Linked DNA regions of Homo sapiens. The protein of the gene in region 1 purifies or fractionates together with the protein of each later gene. This does not show direct contact. Each region holds a gene or a part of one and is shown in the gene's direction. Other genes may lie near its edges.

What was found.
Region 2: the proteins of RAB3GAP1 (region 1) and WDR7 purify together in Homo sapiens (affinity purification with western blotting, with the first as the bait; one study listed by BioGRID). This does not show direct contact.
Region 3: the proteins of RAB3GAP1 (region 1) and ZDHHC11 purify together in Homo sapiens (co-immunoprecipitation; one large-scale study listed by IntAct). This does not show direct contact.
Region 4: the proteins of RAB3GAP1 (region 1) and UPF3B fractionate together in Homo sapiens (co-fractionation; one large-scale study listed by BioGRID). This does not show direct contact.

Annotation. Positions count from the first base shown.
Region 1 is NC_000002.12:135,134,897-135,139,905, forward strand, and holds part of RAB3GAP1 (rab3 GTPase-activating protein catalytic subunit), read left to right. Parts: intron 1-368; coding exon 369-423; intron 424-667; coding exon 668-1,036; intron 1,037-1,731; exon of another isoform or gene 1,732-1,859; intron 1,860-5,009. UniProt on the Homo sapiens protein: Catalytic subunit of the Rab3 GTPase-activating (Rab3GAP) complex composed of RAB3GAP1 and RAB3GAP2, which has GTPase-activating protein (GAP) activity towards various Rab3 subfamily members (RAB3A, RAB3B, RAB3C and RAB3D), RAB5A and RAB43, and guanine nucleotide exchange factor (GEF) activity towards RAB18.
Region 2 is NC_000018.10:56,692,756-56,696,358, forward strand, and holds part of WDR7 (WD repeat-containing protein 7), read left to right. Parts: intron 1-1,863; coding exon 1,864-2,005; intron 2,006-2,194; coding exon 2,195-2,443; intron 2,444-3,486; coding exon 3,487-3,603.
Region 3 is NC_000005.10:837,487-841,089, reverse strand, and holds part of ZDHHC11 (palmitoyltransferase ZDHHC11), read left to right. Parts: exon of another isoform or gene 1-245; coding exon of another isoform or gene 246-287; intron 288-439; coding exon 440-595; coding exon of another isoform or gene 596-671; exon of another isoform or gene 672-742; coding exon of another isoform or gene 743-871; exon of another isoform or gene 872-1,008; coding exon of another isoform or gene 1,009-1,118; exon of another isoform or gene 1,119-1,648; intron 1,649-2,551; coding exon of another isoform or gene 2,552-2,585; exon of another isoform or gene 2,586-3,603. UniProt on the Homo sapiens protein: Endoplasmic reticulum-localized palmitoyltransferase that could catalyze the addition of palmitate onto various protein substrates and be involved in a variety of cellular processes.
Region 4 is NC_000023.11:119,835,964-119,839,566, reverse strand, and holds part of UPF3B (regulator of nonsense transcripts 3B), read left to right. Parts: intron 1-1,039; coding exon 1,040-1,200; intron 1,201-1,515; coding exon 1,516-1,810; intron 1,811-3,603. UniProt on the Homo sapiens protein: Involved in nonsense-mediated decay (NMD) of mRNAs containing premature stop codons by associating with the nuclear exon junction complex (EJC) and serving as link between the EJC core and NMD machinery.

The DNA of each region.
Region 1 (5,009 bases):
TACTGAATACACAAACTGATTTATTTTGTATGGTGTGAAATACTGTATGCTAGTACTTCCTGGAGTGGGTTCAGGGGCTTTTTCTCATTTTGAGTTTTTGTTAGCCTGAAAACTATCACTAATTTGCTGTTATGTTTTGAAATATCTATTATATTTGCTATTGGTGATTTGTGGACAAGGAGTATAAAATAAATTTTCATCTTTTAATTCTATGTGCTCCCCCTCTGGAATTCACTTACCTTACCTGTGGAAATCTAGTTTTGATTTCTTATCAATATAGCTAAAAATTATGGTAGTATAGAAAATAATCATATCTGAAGCAATTTTACTAAAACTAAGCTTTCTTTTCTCCTTACTTTATTTGATAGATTAGCAAGTGGACCCCCAGATCTGAGGTGTTGTTTACTGCATCAGAAACTACAGGTAAAGATTTCTCAATGACATGGATAAATGTGGTCTTGATTTAATCAGATTATTCTAATACTAAATGTAATAATGGGTTACATGCTGTTCTCATGGTGCTGCTGTAGGTTGCCTATAGTCAGTAGTCACTGCAATTCACAAGGTCCTGAGAAGTGGAGAGTGAAAATTAAATATTCAAGCAGTAGGTAGATTTTTATTTTTCTGTAACTAATTCAACTATAAATGTTATTTCTCTTTTCTTAAGATGTTAAATTGTTGTATTGAAAGAAAGAAGGCACGTGATGAGGGGAAAAAGACAAGTGCTTCAGATGTCACTAATATATATCCAGGGGATGCTGGAAAAGCAGGAGACCAGTTGGTGCCAGATAATCTAAAAGAAACAGATAAGGAAAAGGGAGAGGTAGGAAAATCTTGGGATTCCTGGAGTGACAGCGAAGAAGAATTTTTTGAATGCCTAAGTGATACTGAAGAACTTAAAGGAAATGGACAAGAGAGTGGCAAGAAAGGAGGACCTAAGGAGATGGCAAATTTAAGGCCGGAAGGACGGCTCTATCAGCATGGGAAACTTACACTGCTGCATAATGGAGAACCTCTCTACATTCCAGTAACCCAGGTAGGATGCACTAGTTCTTTCCATTTTAATTTATTTTGTGGTTTATATAACTTCATCCTAGTAGAAGATAGTGCTTTGAGTAAGGAAAATTATCCAAAAAGTCTATGTTTAGGCCAGATGCGGTGGCTTACGCCTGTAATCCCAGCACTTTGGGAGGCTGAGGTGGGCAGATCACCTGAGGTCAGGAGTTCAAGATAAGTCTGGCCAACATGGTGAAACCCTGTCTCTACTAAAAGTACAAAAATTAGCTGGGCACAGTGGCGCACACCTGTAGTTCCAGCTACTGGGGAGGCTGAGGCAGGAGAATCATTTGAACCCAGCAGTGGGAGGTTGCAGTGAGCCGAGATTGCACCACTGCACTCCAGCCTGGGCAACAGAGCAAGACTCTTGTCTCAAAAGAAAAAAAAAGTGTTTATGTTTAAAGATAAAGATATAGACTGTTTAAAGAAACTAAAGGTAAGGATTTCCCAATGACATAGATAAATGTGGTCTTGATTTAATCAAGGACCTTTAAAAGATTGGACAAAGTCTATGTTTAAAGATTAAAGAAATCTAAATAAACTTTTGGGGCTTTTAGGTTTGCCATTTCTGTAATTGAGAAATGTTTTGAAGTTTAAGTAGATCACGTCATCATATATAAGGTGATTTATAAACTGAGCAGTGAATGCTCAGATGTTTAAAAAAGAAAATCCAACTGCACTTATGTATGTTTTTGTTTAACTTGTGGACAAAGACTTATGGATAGGTGCAAAAAATAAATCCTCTTTTGCAACCCAGAACTCATTGTTCAGTATGAGTTTTGATACATATAAGAAGGGATATTATGATACCTGAGACAGTTAACTGATGGGAATATTGATAGCCATAAAGGTTGGTCCCAGACCAGGCACAATGGCTCAAGCCTGCAAGCCCCACACCAAGGTGGGAGTATTGCTTGAAGCCAGGAGTTCAAGACCAGCCTGTATAAGAAAGTAACAAACACCTCATCTCCACAAAAATTTAAAAATTAGCTGAGTATTGGGGCATGTGTCTGTAGTTGCAGCTACTCAGGAAGAGGAGGCTGAGGCAAGAGTATTGAGCCCAGGAGTTGGAGGCTGCACTGAGCTTTGATGACACCACTGTACTCCAGCCTGGGTAACAAAGACAGACCCTGTCTCTTAATTAAAAAAGATTGATTCTAGGACTGTGGAAGAGATAGTTAAACAGCATGGGATATGAAGGAAATCCTCAGCAGTATTAATTTTGCATTCCAATTTCATGTTGACTTGATACCTACGATGGCTTTTTGTTTTAAAGGCTTTTATCTTGAGAACATGATGTCTGTAGTTAAAGGTATTGGCGTATTCCACACATCTGTACTATTCTTGAGTATGATCGCTTAGGGTGTCAAATTGAGAACCAGGCAGATCCACCACCTACAGTAAAAAGGACCCTAAAGTAAATTGGTTGAAGAAGTTAGATCCCAAAGATTCTTGGTGAATTTTGAAGTCTTCATCAGTATATCCATATTAAAAGGAGATGACAGAAGCCAAAATAAAAGAATTATGGGCTAACAGGACAGCTGGATTAAAATAAGCATCAGTTTCATTAAAAAGGGCTAACTTGAAGATAAATCTTTTGACTCCAGCTCTTTAGAGGATCTGAAGTGACCTTGATGGACAGTGGAAGAAATCACAACATGGAATTACTTGAACAAAAATTTATTGACTTAAAGAAAAAGAAAAAATCCAAAAATATATAGAGAGAACAAAAGTAAATATCCTTCAATTATATGATTAGCTTTTATCTGTTCAAAAATAGTTTGAAGTCATATACACCATTAGGATGTAGAACAGCAATAACTCAACAACAACAGCAGCAATAGTTGTTTTTAAGGGTTTTGTTTTGTTTTTTTTTTGTTGTTTTTTTTTTGACACAGAGTCTCTCTTTGTCACCCAGGTGGGAGTGCAGTGGCATGACTGTAGCTTACTGCAGCCTTGACCTCCTGGGATCAAGTGATCCTCCCACCGCAGCTTCTCAAGTAGCTGGAACTACAGGTGCATGCCACCATGCCTGGCTAATTTTTCGTGGTTTTTATAGAGGTGGGGTTTTGCCCTGTTGTCCAGGCTTGTCTTAAATTCCTGAACTCAAGCCATCTGCCTGCCTCAGCCTCCCAAAGTGCTAGGATTACAGACATGATCCACTGCACCCGGCCTGAAAACATTCTATTGTGAAAATTGTAATCTAGTAAAAATGAAAGAGGCTCAACGCCTGTAATCCCAACACTTTGGGAGGCCGAGGTGGGGTTGGATTGCTTGAGCCCAGGAATTCAAGACCAGCCTGGGCAACATGGTAAACCCTATTTCTACCAAAAAAAAAAAAAAAAAAATTAGCCGACTGGGGTAGCGTACACCTGTAGTCCCAGCTACTCGGGAGGCTGAGGTAGAAGAATCAATTGAGCCCGGGAGGTTAAGGCTGCAGTGAGCTATGATTGTGTCACTGTTCTCCAGCCTGGGCAACAGAGCAAGACCCTGTCTCAAAAAAATAAAAAGTGAAAGCCACCATCCACTAATTTTGACTTGCATTCCTTGAAGTAACTAACAAGTATTATTGGTTTGGGTTATATTTCTTATAACTGTTTCTCTGCATTGATGTATAATACATATATGTGTGTACATATTAATACATGGTTTTATGGATTTTTTTTTTTTTTTGGAGACAGGATCTCATTCTGTTGCATAGGCTGGAATGCAGTGGCATGATCATGGCTCACTGCAGCCTTGACTTGCTGGGCTCAAGTGATCCTCTGACCTTAGCCTCCTAGGTAGCTGGGACTACAAGTGCTCACCACCATGCCAGGCTGATTTTTTCACTTTTAAAATTTTTGTAAAGATGGAGTCTTGCTATGTTGCCCAAGCTGGTCCTAAACTCCTGACCTCAAGCAATCCTCTGTTTCGGCCTCCCAAAGTGCTGGGATTATAGGCATGAGCCACTGTGCCCAGCCTCAATTTCTTATAAACAATTGGTATTACCAACCATATAAATTTTTGTTAACATGATGGTCAAAAGTAGTATCTCAGTGTTTTAGATTGTATTTTTCTGAATTTTCATGAACCTGAGCATCTTTTAATATGTTCGTTAGCCGTCCTTTCCTGTGAATCGCCTATGATTTTTCTTTTAGGTTGCTCCCCTGTTCTTATTGATTCATATGAATTCTTCATATTTTAGATGTGAATCTACAGTTATATATATTGTATATGTTTTCTGCTAGTCATTTTAAAAACATATGTTCATGTATTTACTTAATTATTGAGTTATAACTTAATACAATAAAGTGTACAGATCTTGGCTGGGCATGGTAGCTCATGCCTGTAATCCCAGCACTTTGGGAGGCCAAGGTGGGCAGATTGCTTAAGCTCAAAAGTTCAAGACCAGCCTGAGGAACATGACAAAACCCCGTCTCTACAAAAAATACAGAAATTAGCCGAGCGTGGTGGTGTATGGCTGTAGACCCAGCTACTTGGGAGGCTCAGGTGGGAGGATGGCTTGGGTCCGGGAGGCAGAGGTTGCAGTGAACTATGATTGCACCATTGCACTCCAGCCTGGGCAACAGAGCAAGACCCTGTCTCAAAAATTAAAAAAAAAAAAAATAAAAAGTGCACAAATCTTTAGTATACTGCTTGGTGAATTTTTTCATATTGATACATGCATATAACTACTTCCCAGATCAAGATACAGAAAATTCCCATCATCCTAGAACAGTGCTGATAAATAAAACTTTCTGTGAAGATGGAAATTCTCTACATTCTCTGTCTTTCCCATTCAATACAATAGCCATTATCCAAATGTAACTACTGAGTGCTTGAAATGTGGCTAATGTTTCTAAGGAATTAAATTTTTAATTTTAATTTATTTAAATTAAATAGCCAGATGTATTGGATAGTGAAGCCCAGGATTCCCCTCCAGCAACTCTTTCTCTTAACTTTTGTCACCA
Region 2 (3,603 bases), on another chromosome or scaffold:
TACGTTTTAAATTAAAAATGTGTATTTTGTGGTGTGTTGAAATGTAGAATATTGGTTATTACAGCTGCTGTAGCAATTTTTCCTTGTTAAATATATAGTTTATCAATTAAAAATTTTAGTCTGGGCGACATAGTGAGACCCCATCTCTACAAAAAAAAAAATTAGCATGGTGTGGTGGTACACGCCTGTAGTCCCAGCTACTTGGGAGGCTGAAGTGGGAAGATCCTTTGAGCTGGGAGGTGGAGGCTGCAGTGAGCTGTGATCGTGCCACTGCACTCCAGCCTGGGCAACATGGCGAGACCCTGTCTCAAAAGCAAAAAAAATTCAGTAAGTAAAGTCAAACGATTGGTTATGCTTAATATGTGTAGTTTCCATTGGCTAATGCTTTTAGCTGTTAATTACTGTATTTGATTAACCAGTATTTGAATACAGTAATTAGACTATTAACTATAATTGTCAAAACTGAAGTCAAATTTAATATTGCTTTTCAGGCTAAGATTCTGTTCTTTAATATTCCAGTATTTGTGAAGTAATCCTCCGAATTTTAGTAGAAGTCCACCACACTATTTAGTATTTTCAGATAGTACTTCATTGAAGGCACAAAATCTTGAGCTGAAAATGAAAGTACACATAAGATCCTAATGAATGGTTTTTGTTCCTGGTAGCTGGTAGCTAACAGAGGCTAGGTTCAAATTGATTATGAAAATATGAGCAAGTAAAACATGATATGCTATTAGTTGAAAAATATACTAATTTTAACAATGGGGTCCTCTAGTTGCACAAGCTTGATAGTTCAATTTTGTTGGTTTTTTTTTTTGTTTTTTTTTTTTTTTTGAGATGGAGTCGCCCTTTGACTCCCAGGCTGGAGTGCAGTGGTGTGATCTCGGCTCACTGCAACCTTTGCTTCCTGGGTTCAAGCGATTCTCCTGCCTCAGCCTCCCGAGTAGCTGGGATTACAGGCACGCACCACCACACCTGGCTAATTTTTGTATTTTTATTAGAGACAGGGTTTCACCATGTTGGCCAGGCTGGTCTTGAACTTTTGGCCTCAAGTGATCTGCCCGCTGCAGCCTCCCAAAGTGCTGGCATTACAGGCATGAGCCACTGTGGCCAGCCTACTTTTTGTTTTTTTGAGGCAAGGTCTTGCTGTGTCATCCAGGCTGGAGTGCAGTAGCGAAATGATAGTTCACTGTAGCTTCAAACTCCTGGACTCAAGTGATGCTCCCACCACAGCCTCCTGAATACCTGGAGCTATGAGCCTGTGCCACCATGCTGGGCTAAGTTTTTTTTTTTTTCCTGTAGAGACAGGATTTCGCTTAGTTGTCCAGGGCCGGTCTCTGACTCCTGGCCTCAAGCGATCTTCCGTGTCATTGTTGGGATTACAAGCATGAGCCACTGTTCCCTAATTTTGTTGCTATTCTTAATGATTAATCAGGAGTGGGCAAAAAAAGCAGGAATAGTGAGTTCTCTCATCTTGACCTTTTAAGTGAAGACTTTTCTTTTTGATAAAGCTTAGCTATGTGTTAATTATTTAATAATAGGCAGTTAAATTGCATTATTGTGGCTACACATGAGTTATTATAAAGTGGTGAAAAGTAGCATAAATGCTAACTTTAGAGAAAGGCTGTAAATACAGTTTTTGTTTCATTCAATGTGTGTGTTATACTAGATTAGAATATTAGTTGACATGTATGTTAGTGCTATAGAATTACATTAAAATATTGTTGAATAATCATGCTATAAACACTTTTTCAACTTGGCTACTGGGACAAATTACCTAATATCTTTGTTTGAAAAGCATTAATGTGTGAAATATTTTGATTAAAAATACAGCTAAAGATATTCAAATACTTTTTTTGGCAGTTGCTAATTTGTCCTCCTGTTACTCGGTTCTTCTATGGATGCAGAGAATATTTCCATAAACTGTTAATTCAGGGTGATTCTTCTGGAAGGTTGAATATTTGGAACATATCAGACACAGCTGATAAACAGGGAAGTGAAGAAGGTAATAGTAAATCATGTGTAACAATTTCTTAATTAATTTAATATCTTAAATACCAACTACTGAATAACATTCATAATGTACATATATCATTTTCTTTGATTACTGGATCAATCAACATTATTTTAATGTTTTAAATTTTTTTTAACATGCACAAATGTTTTTCTTTTATACAAAACCAAACCTCTACAGGGCTGGCAATGACAACTTCTATTAGTTTGCAAGAGGCATTTGATAAACTGAATCCTTGTCCTGCTGGAATTATAGATCAGCTGAGTGTGATTCCCAATAGTAATGAACCTCTTAAAGTAACTGCAAGTGTGTACATACCAGCACATGGACGACTTGTTTGTGGTCGTGAAGATGGAAGCATAGTTATTGTACCTGCCACACAGACGGCCATAGTACAGCTGTTGCAAGGGGAACACATGCTCAGAAGAGGTATACTGAAGAGCTCCGTATGTCTAAAGTGTTTTGACAACTCTTACCCAGAGAGTGAAAATGTCTCTGTTTTTTGTTTTTAAATAAATACAGTGAATCAGTGTAGTTAGTTGTTGGGGTGCTATGTAGTTGGTAGAGTTTAATGCACAGATAAAATATTCAGTGCCTGTTATTAGAATTAATACAATGTAATGACTGTAAATAAAGAAGTATCCAATTTTATCTCTTTGAGATATGTTAATAGTTTCATCTCTTAGTTATCTCTATGGATTACTAAATAATTACTGTATTACCAGTAATTCTGAAAATCCTCCAGAACAGTACCATCCAATAGAAATCTTTTTTTTTTTTTTTTCCGAGAAAGAGTCTCACTGTGTTGCTCAGACTAGAGTGCAGTGGCATGATCTCGGCTCACTACAATCTCTGCCTCCTGAGTTCAAGCAGTTCTCCTGCACAGCCCCCCAAGTAGCTGGGATTATAGGCATGTGCCACCACACCCAGCTAATTTTTGTATTTTTTGTAGGGACAGTTTCACCATGTTGGCCAGGCTGGTCTCGAACTCCTGACCTCAAGTGATCTGCCTGCCTCGGCCTCTCAACAGCCAGTGGAAATCGAATGTCAACCATATATATATAACCATACCTGTAATTTCCTAATAGCTGTGTTAAAAAATAAAATGAAACAGTTGAAATTGACTATATTTTATATAACCCAATATAGCAAAAACTATTTTCATTTCAACTTCTAATCAATATGAAGATTGTTGATGAAATATTTTAGGTTTTTTGTATCAACTCTTCAAAATCTCATGACTAGTTTAAATTCACAGCACATAGGAATCTGGATTACCCCCATTTCAAGTGCTCAGTAGTCTCATGTGGCTAGTAGATACTGAATTAGGCAGAGTTGTGTTAGAAGATAAAATTGGAAGCCTTTGCTGTGATATAATTTGTAGCTATTCTAAACATTCATGTTTACTTTTACTTACTGAAACTTGGTAAACCTTTAATTTTCCCATTTTAAATCCAAACCCTCATTCACAGGTTGGCCACCTCACAGAACACTCCGTGGTCATCGGAACAAAGTCACATGTTTGCTATATCCTCATCAGGTCTCAGCTCGGTATGATCAAAGATACCTGATATCTGGAGGTGTGGATT
Region 3 (3,603 bases), on another chromosome or scaffold:
GTGGGCACTGTGACCCCGGCACTTAGTGAGGAAGGGGTGGGCACTGTGACCCCGGCACTTAGTGAGGAAGGGGGGTGGGCGCTGTGACCCCGGCACTTAGGAAGGGGTGGGCGCTGTGACCCTGGCTCTTAGTGAGCAAGGGGTGGGCGCTGTGACCCCAGCACTTAGGAAGGGGTGGGCACTGTGACCCCGGCACTTAGTGACAATGTTGGAGCCTCACCTCCCAGATCCATAAAGCAGGGATCATGAAAACCAACCGAAGGCAGCAGGGCCTACGGGGCACTCAGGTAAGGGAGGCGTCCACCTGGGCAGGGAGACATCCCTCGCACTGGCTGTCCCCACACCGCCCCATCCCCAGCACGCTCTGGTCTGTGACGTCCACCTGATGTGGCACCCGTCAGCAGGTGCTGGACACAGTGGCTCTCCCTTGTCTCCCCAGATGTCAAGAATATGAACACGTGGCTGCTGTTCCTCCCCCTGTTCCCGGTGCAGGTGCAGACCCTGATAGTCGTGATCATCGGGATGCTCGTGCTCCTGCTGGACTTTCTTGGCTTGGTGCACCTGGGCCAGCTGCTCATCTTCCACATCTACCTGAGTATGTCCCCCACCCTAAGCCCCCGATCCCCCCAAGGCTGGGTGGTCAGAGCTGCTCATCTTACACCTCTACTTGAGTATGTCCCTAACCCTGAGCCCCCCACGCCTGGGGCCAGAGTCTTTGTCCCCCGTGTGCGCATGTGTTCAGGGTCAGCCTCTCCCAGAAGTGAGATCATGGACAAAAAGGGCAAATCACAGGAAGAAATTAAATCCATGAGGACCCAGCAGGCCCAGCAAGAAGCTGAACTCACGCCGAGACCTGCAGGAGTGGTGCCAGGTGCTTGAAGTAACAAGTTTAAAATGTTCAGAGACAATGGAATGGAATCTATTAGGCAAGAACAGGACATTATGAAATAAGGACAGGTGGACTTCCAAAAACACAAGTAGAAATTCTAACAATGAAATATATTACAGGCAGGTCACCCACTAACCAAACAACTGAAGCGAGAGCTGGTGGTCTTGCTTGGTCTCACAGTGGGCACAGCGGTAGGCGGTCAGTCATGTTGCTGAACGACGGAGGGTAAACTCCCCAGCCCCAAGGAAACCTGTGTTGGAAGTAACAACAACCTCCCTGCTCCTGGCACCAGCCGTTTTGGTCATGGTGGGCCAGCTGCAAAGCGTCTTCCATTCTCTGGGCAGTGGTGGCCCCGAGGCTGTGGCCTCTCAGGGGGTTTCTGTGGACACGGGCAGCAGAGTGTGTCCAGGCCAGCCCCCAAGAATGCCCTGCTCCTGACAGCTTGGCCAACCCCTGGTCAGGGCAGAGGGAGTTGGGTGGGTCAGGCTCTGGGCTCACCTCCATCTCCAGAGCATCCCCTGCCTGCAGTTGTGGCAAGAACGCCCAGCTCAGAATGAACACACCCCACCAAGAGCCTCCTTGTTCATAACCACAGGTTACCCTACAAACCACTGTCCCCACACAACCCTGGGGATGTTTTAAAACACACACCTCTAACGCATATCTTACAGTCACTGTTGTCTTGCCTGAGGGTTGAATTTTTTTTAATGAAAGTGCAATGAAAATCACTGGATTAAATCCTACGGACACAGAGCTGAATGTGCTGTTTTCAGAGTTTTAATTTTGGATGTCAAGGCCAGTGCCTGTATAGAATAGGTGCTTAGGATATGTTTACTGAATGGAATGGAACTAAAGCCTCAGGTGTAACTTCATGGAGACACGCGTCTGCCTTGTAGAATGTTACAGGCTGCCTGTTCCTGAAGCTGAAACCCTTAAGAGTGAGAAGTCATTTGGGCCTCCTTCAAAACTCTCCACCCTTCTTAGAATCAGGAATATTTTTAAAAGTACTTTCTAGAATTATCTAGCAATCTCTCTTATATTTAAATATTTTTGGGTTTACCACCTATGAAGGCTTTTCTGGAGTTTCACTCCACCCAGAATTCATCATCTCTCCTTATCAGGAAATCTCTCACCCTCAGATGCTTAGAGTCAGGGTGAGTCCCCCCACAACAGGAGAATCGGCCGAGGTTGGGCCGAGGCCACATGGTCTCATCCACATGTGCCGCAGATTAAGGGATGCTCAAACTGCCCAGTAATACAAAGTCTGCACTTGTCATTTTTTTCCAACTTTGTGTACAAAATGTTTCCCTGGGTTAAAATAGTCAATGCCCACTGTGTGCTGAGCACGTGGGGTGCTGCAGGCCCTTGTGCTGCAGAGAAGCTGGCCCTTGCCTCAGGCGGCAGAGCAGGGAAGTGCAGTGGGCCTGAAGCCATGCGGGGCTGGGAGGGATGACCTGGTCTGTCCTCTGAGCCAGGCACTGCACTTGGAATGGGCTTCTTGAACGCAAAGCCCAGACCAAGTGTGGCAGAAACATGAAAGGACAGGCAGTCGGCTGCTGTGGGCGGGAGGCAGGACGCCCAGGCCTGTCCCCACCCCCGTGACCCAGAGCCTCCCTGGGCAGTGACTCCAGGATGTCCAGGAGCTTCTTCTCTACCTCACAGGACTGGAGAGGCTGTGGTGAGACGCATCCTGTGAAGGCTGGGCTGGCCACAGGCAGCTCCCCAGGGCGCCCACCGCCATCTGCTCCTCACTGCAAATAGGCCTCTGTGGGCGGCCGCCCCAGTCTCCAGAAATAGTCACAAGACATCGGCTCTCACGGTGTTGGTGTTTAGGGAAAGAAGCATGGAGAGTTTGGCCCCTCCATGGAAGCTCGTGGCTGAAATAGGTGCAGAGCCCATTTTATTAACGTTTGTTAAGACGGCTCTTTTAGATAAACGGGTGTATCAGGTTTTGCTTTGCTTCCCTGGGCTGCTTTGCTGCCTGCAGGACAGGCCAGGTGGGTAGGGCTCTGGCCAGCCTGCTGAGCTGTCCTGTGGGCACTGTGCAGGGCTGCAGGGATGGTGACCTGTCTCAGCCCCATCAGAGGCTGTGCTGAGTGGCACTCACAGCACTCGTGTTCACCTCCTGGGCCTGGGGCTCTCAGCACGCTCAGGAGTGTGTGGTCCCAGGACCCGCTAGCCAGCACCTCGGGGTGGCCGCCCCACTGCGTGGTCCTCCGACTGTGGGGTCTCTGTGCATCCCCCAAGGTGCGCCCCACCCAGTGTCCAGATGTGGGGAACCCCACAGGCCATCTGGACCCTCAGACAGAGCGGCCCCTCCTGAGCTGGTCTCTTACCCCTGCCAGCGATCCCAGGGGATCTGGAGCAACCTCTCAAGCTGCATGGTATAGGGGACCCAGGTCTGTGAGAGACAGCTCATCTCTGACACCACTAACAATGCAGCTCAATGAGGCCGTGGCAGGCGGCAGGGGCGTGGGTCAGCACTGTTCCCCAGGTCGCAGCTGCAGACCCCTCCTGCTGACCATCAGCTAGCTGCAGAACTGGGCCCACAAGGCACCTGCACTCATCCTGACCTCACAGGGCCTGCATGGTGGGCGGAGCAGTTCTCCCTGTGCAGGGGCCGGATCAGTGGCACTGGCCACTCTGCTGAGCTGTCCTGTGGGCGCCGTGCAAAGCCGCAGGGCTGGTATCTTGTCCTGTTCCTCCTTTTCCCT
Region 4 (3,603 bases), on another chromosome or scaffold:
ATTCTTCTATTTTGCCTAAGAATCTCTCTGATTATCCGACACTTGGAGGTATTCTCGAGAGATTCATAGCAGCAATGTAAAAAACAATGGCATTTTTGAACATGCGTAAATATGGCATTAAATACAGAGTTCCTACTCAGTAGAGATGGAACTTCACTATTTGGTTGTATAAGGCCTTTAGATTTTTAAATCAAATGCCAAATAATTCTTGTTATTAATCTCTAATGGCAAGATAATTGTACCATCATAAGTATGTTATTCTCAGGCTCAAGGCAAAATTATTCCTGCAATGGATCTCTCCTTTGGTGACCAAGGTATTTGTCATTCCAAGTACTACATAAAAACAGTCCCAACAGAAACGATCTGCCTATCACTTAAAATTTGTGGGCTGTTTCCCATTAAGTTATATCAACATGCTGGTTTGCTACAGAAGCATACTTTGAAGTATGCATTGGTTCACTTAAAGGTTGACCCATTTAAAGCCAAAGGAAGCCGGGCACAGTGGCTCACACCTGTAATCTCAGCACTGTGGGAGGCCGAGGCAGAAGGATGGTGTGAGCCCAGAAGTTTGAGAACAGCCTGGGTGACATGATGAGACCTTGTCTCTACAAAAAAATTAAAAAATTAGCCATATGTGGTGGTGTGCATCTGTTGTCCTAGCTACTCAAGAGGCTGAGGCAGGAGGACCACTTAAGCCCAGGAGGTCAAGGTTGCGGTGAGCCATGTTCATGCCACTGCACTCCAGCATGGGCAACAGAGTAGTGAGACCCTGCCTCAGAATAAAAGCCAAAGGAGTCTTGATCCTATTGCCACAAAGTGATTAAACCACTTCGTTCAAGTGGATAACACTTTAACATTAATAGCATCCTTTTAGTAAATTACTACTCTTATGCACTAGTTGTTCACCTGAAAGATTAAGTGTACCTGCAGAGATAGGGGGCTTTGTCTAGTCTAAATTTTAAATATTTGGTATACTGGGTTTTTAATAGAAGATAGTGTCCCAGCCTTCAAAATAAAAATAAACATTTTATCTTTAAAGCTGCTCAAGAAGCCAGAAAAAGGAGATGAAAAAGAATTGGACAAAAGAGAAAAAGCCAAGAAATTGGACAAAGAGAATCTCAGTGATGAAAGAGCCAGTGGGCAAAGTTGTACATTGCCCAAGCGTTCTGATAGCGAACTTAAAGATGAAAAACCAAAGAGGTCAGTAGTCAAGGACTCTTTGTTATGTTTGATTTATACATGCTAGTTTTGCTGCTATGTCCTGGACATGTACCTGAATTAAGATAAGCTGTTTTATGCAGGGCAGGGGGATGAGGAGGAACAGTTTCAGAATATTCTTGTATCTTAATCTGGGTGAATGGTTTTGGGGTTTTGTTCCTTCTTAAAACACTAGTATTTTTCACTCTGCTCTAAAAGTGCAACCTCATTGCAGGGGCCAAATCAGAATCACAGTGTTCCTGCATTTGTGATTACAAGATCTTTCAGGGTTCTGTCTCAGATTTGTTTTTCATGCAGACCTGAAGATGAGAGCGGCAGAGACTATAGGGAGAGGGAACGGGAATATGAACGAGATCAGGAGCGCATACTTCGAGAAAGAGAGAGGCTGAAGCGGCAAGAAGAAGAGCGCCGTAGGCAGAAGGAGCGCTATGAGAAAGAGAAGACTTTTAAGAGAAAAGAAGAAGAAATGAAAAAAGAGAAAGACACACTTCGGGATAAAGGAAAGAAGGCTGAAAGTACAGAATCAATAGGCAGCTCAGAAAAAACTGAAAAGAAAGAAGAAGTGGTCAAGAGAGATCGAATAAGAAACAAGGTGCTGCTTGTCATTAAACTTGTTTATGAGGGTTTTTTTCCCTTTTCCTGCAAGTGTAAAGAAAGTGTAAAGGGCACTGTTATTATAGAATTTTTAAAGGGGAACTTTAATCATCTGCAACTTTTTTTTTTTTTTTTTTTTGAGACAGAGTCTGACTATGTTGCCCAGGCTGGAGTGCAGTGGCACAATCTCGGCTCACTGCAAGCTCCGCCTCCTGGGTTCACGCCATTCTTCTGCTTCAGCCTCCCAAGTAGCTGGGACTACAGGCGCCCACCACCACGCCTGACTTATTTTTTTGTATTTTTAGTAGAGACAGGGTTTCACCGTGTTAGCCAGGATGGTCTTGATCTCCTGACCTCGTGATCCACCTGCCTCAGCCTCCCAAAGTGCTGGGATTACAGGCGTGAGCCACCACGCCTGACCAACTTTTATTTCAGTCTTGGCTGGGCTTTTATTAACTTACTATAGAAATTGTAAACATACACAAAAGTAGAATAGAGAATAGTATGATGGGCCAGGTGCAGTGGCTCACACCTGTAATCCTAGCACTTTGGGAGGCTGAGGTGGGTGGATTGCTAGAGCCTAGGAGTTCTAGACCAGCCTGGCCAACATGGTGAAACCCCGTCTCTACTAAAAATACAAAAAATCGGCTGGATGTGGTGGCGCACACCTGTAATCTCAGCTACTCGGGAGGCTGAGGCAGAAGAATCACTTGAACCTGGGAGGTGGAGGTTGAGGTGAGCCGAGATCACGCCATTGTATTCTAGCCTGGGCAACAGAGCGAGACTCAGTCTCAAAAAAAAAACTGGCCGGGCGCGGTGGCTCACGCCTGTAATCCCAGCACTTTGGGAGGCCAAGACGGGTGGATCACGAGGTCAGGAGATCAAGACCATCCTGGCTAACATGGTGAAACCCCATCTCTACTAAAAATACAAAAAATTAGCCAGGCGTGGTGGCGGGCGCCTGTAGTCCCAGCTACTCGGGAGGCTGAGGCAGGAAAATGGCGTGAACCTGGGAGGCGGAGCTTGCAGTGAGCCGAGATCGCGTCACTGCACTCCAGCACGGGCAACAGAGCGAGACTCTGTCTCAAAAAAAAAAAAAAAATCGAATAGTATGATGAACTCCATGTACTGTACCCATCACCCAGCAGTTCATAGCCAACCTTCTTTCTATTCTACTTCATCCCTACCCCTACTAGATTATTTTCAAACAAACCCTGCACATAATTTCTTCCTTAAATACTTCAGTATATGAGATAAATACTCTATTAATATTACCCTAGTAGCATTTTCACACCAAAAAAAACTAACAATAATTCCTTAACGTCCTGTCTATTCAGTGTTCATATGTTCCCAATTGCTTCATTAATGTCTTTTTAAAATTAATTAATTATTTATTTTTTGCGATGGAGTCTCGCTCTGTCATCTAGGCTGGAGTGCAGTGGCATGATCTCAGCTCACCACAACCTCCACCTCCCGGGTTCAAGTGATTCTCCTGCCTCAGCCTCCCGAATAGCTGAGACTACAGCCTCAAGCCACCATGCCCGGCTAATTTTTGTATTTTTAGTAGAGACAGGGTTTCACCATGTTGGCCAGGCTGGTCTCGAACTCCTGACCTCAGGTGATCCTCCCGCCTCAGCCTCCCAAAGTGCTGGGATTACAGGCATGAGCCACCGTGCCCAGCCTAATGTCTTTTTTTTAATAGGACCTAAACAAATTCCACAAATTATGCTTCCTTGAAATGTCTTCTTCAGTTCTCTTTTGTTTTTAGTTTATTTTTTGAGACAGAGTCTT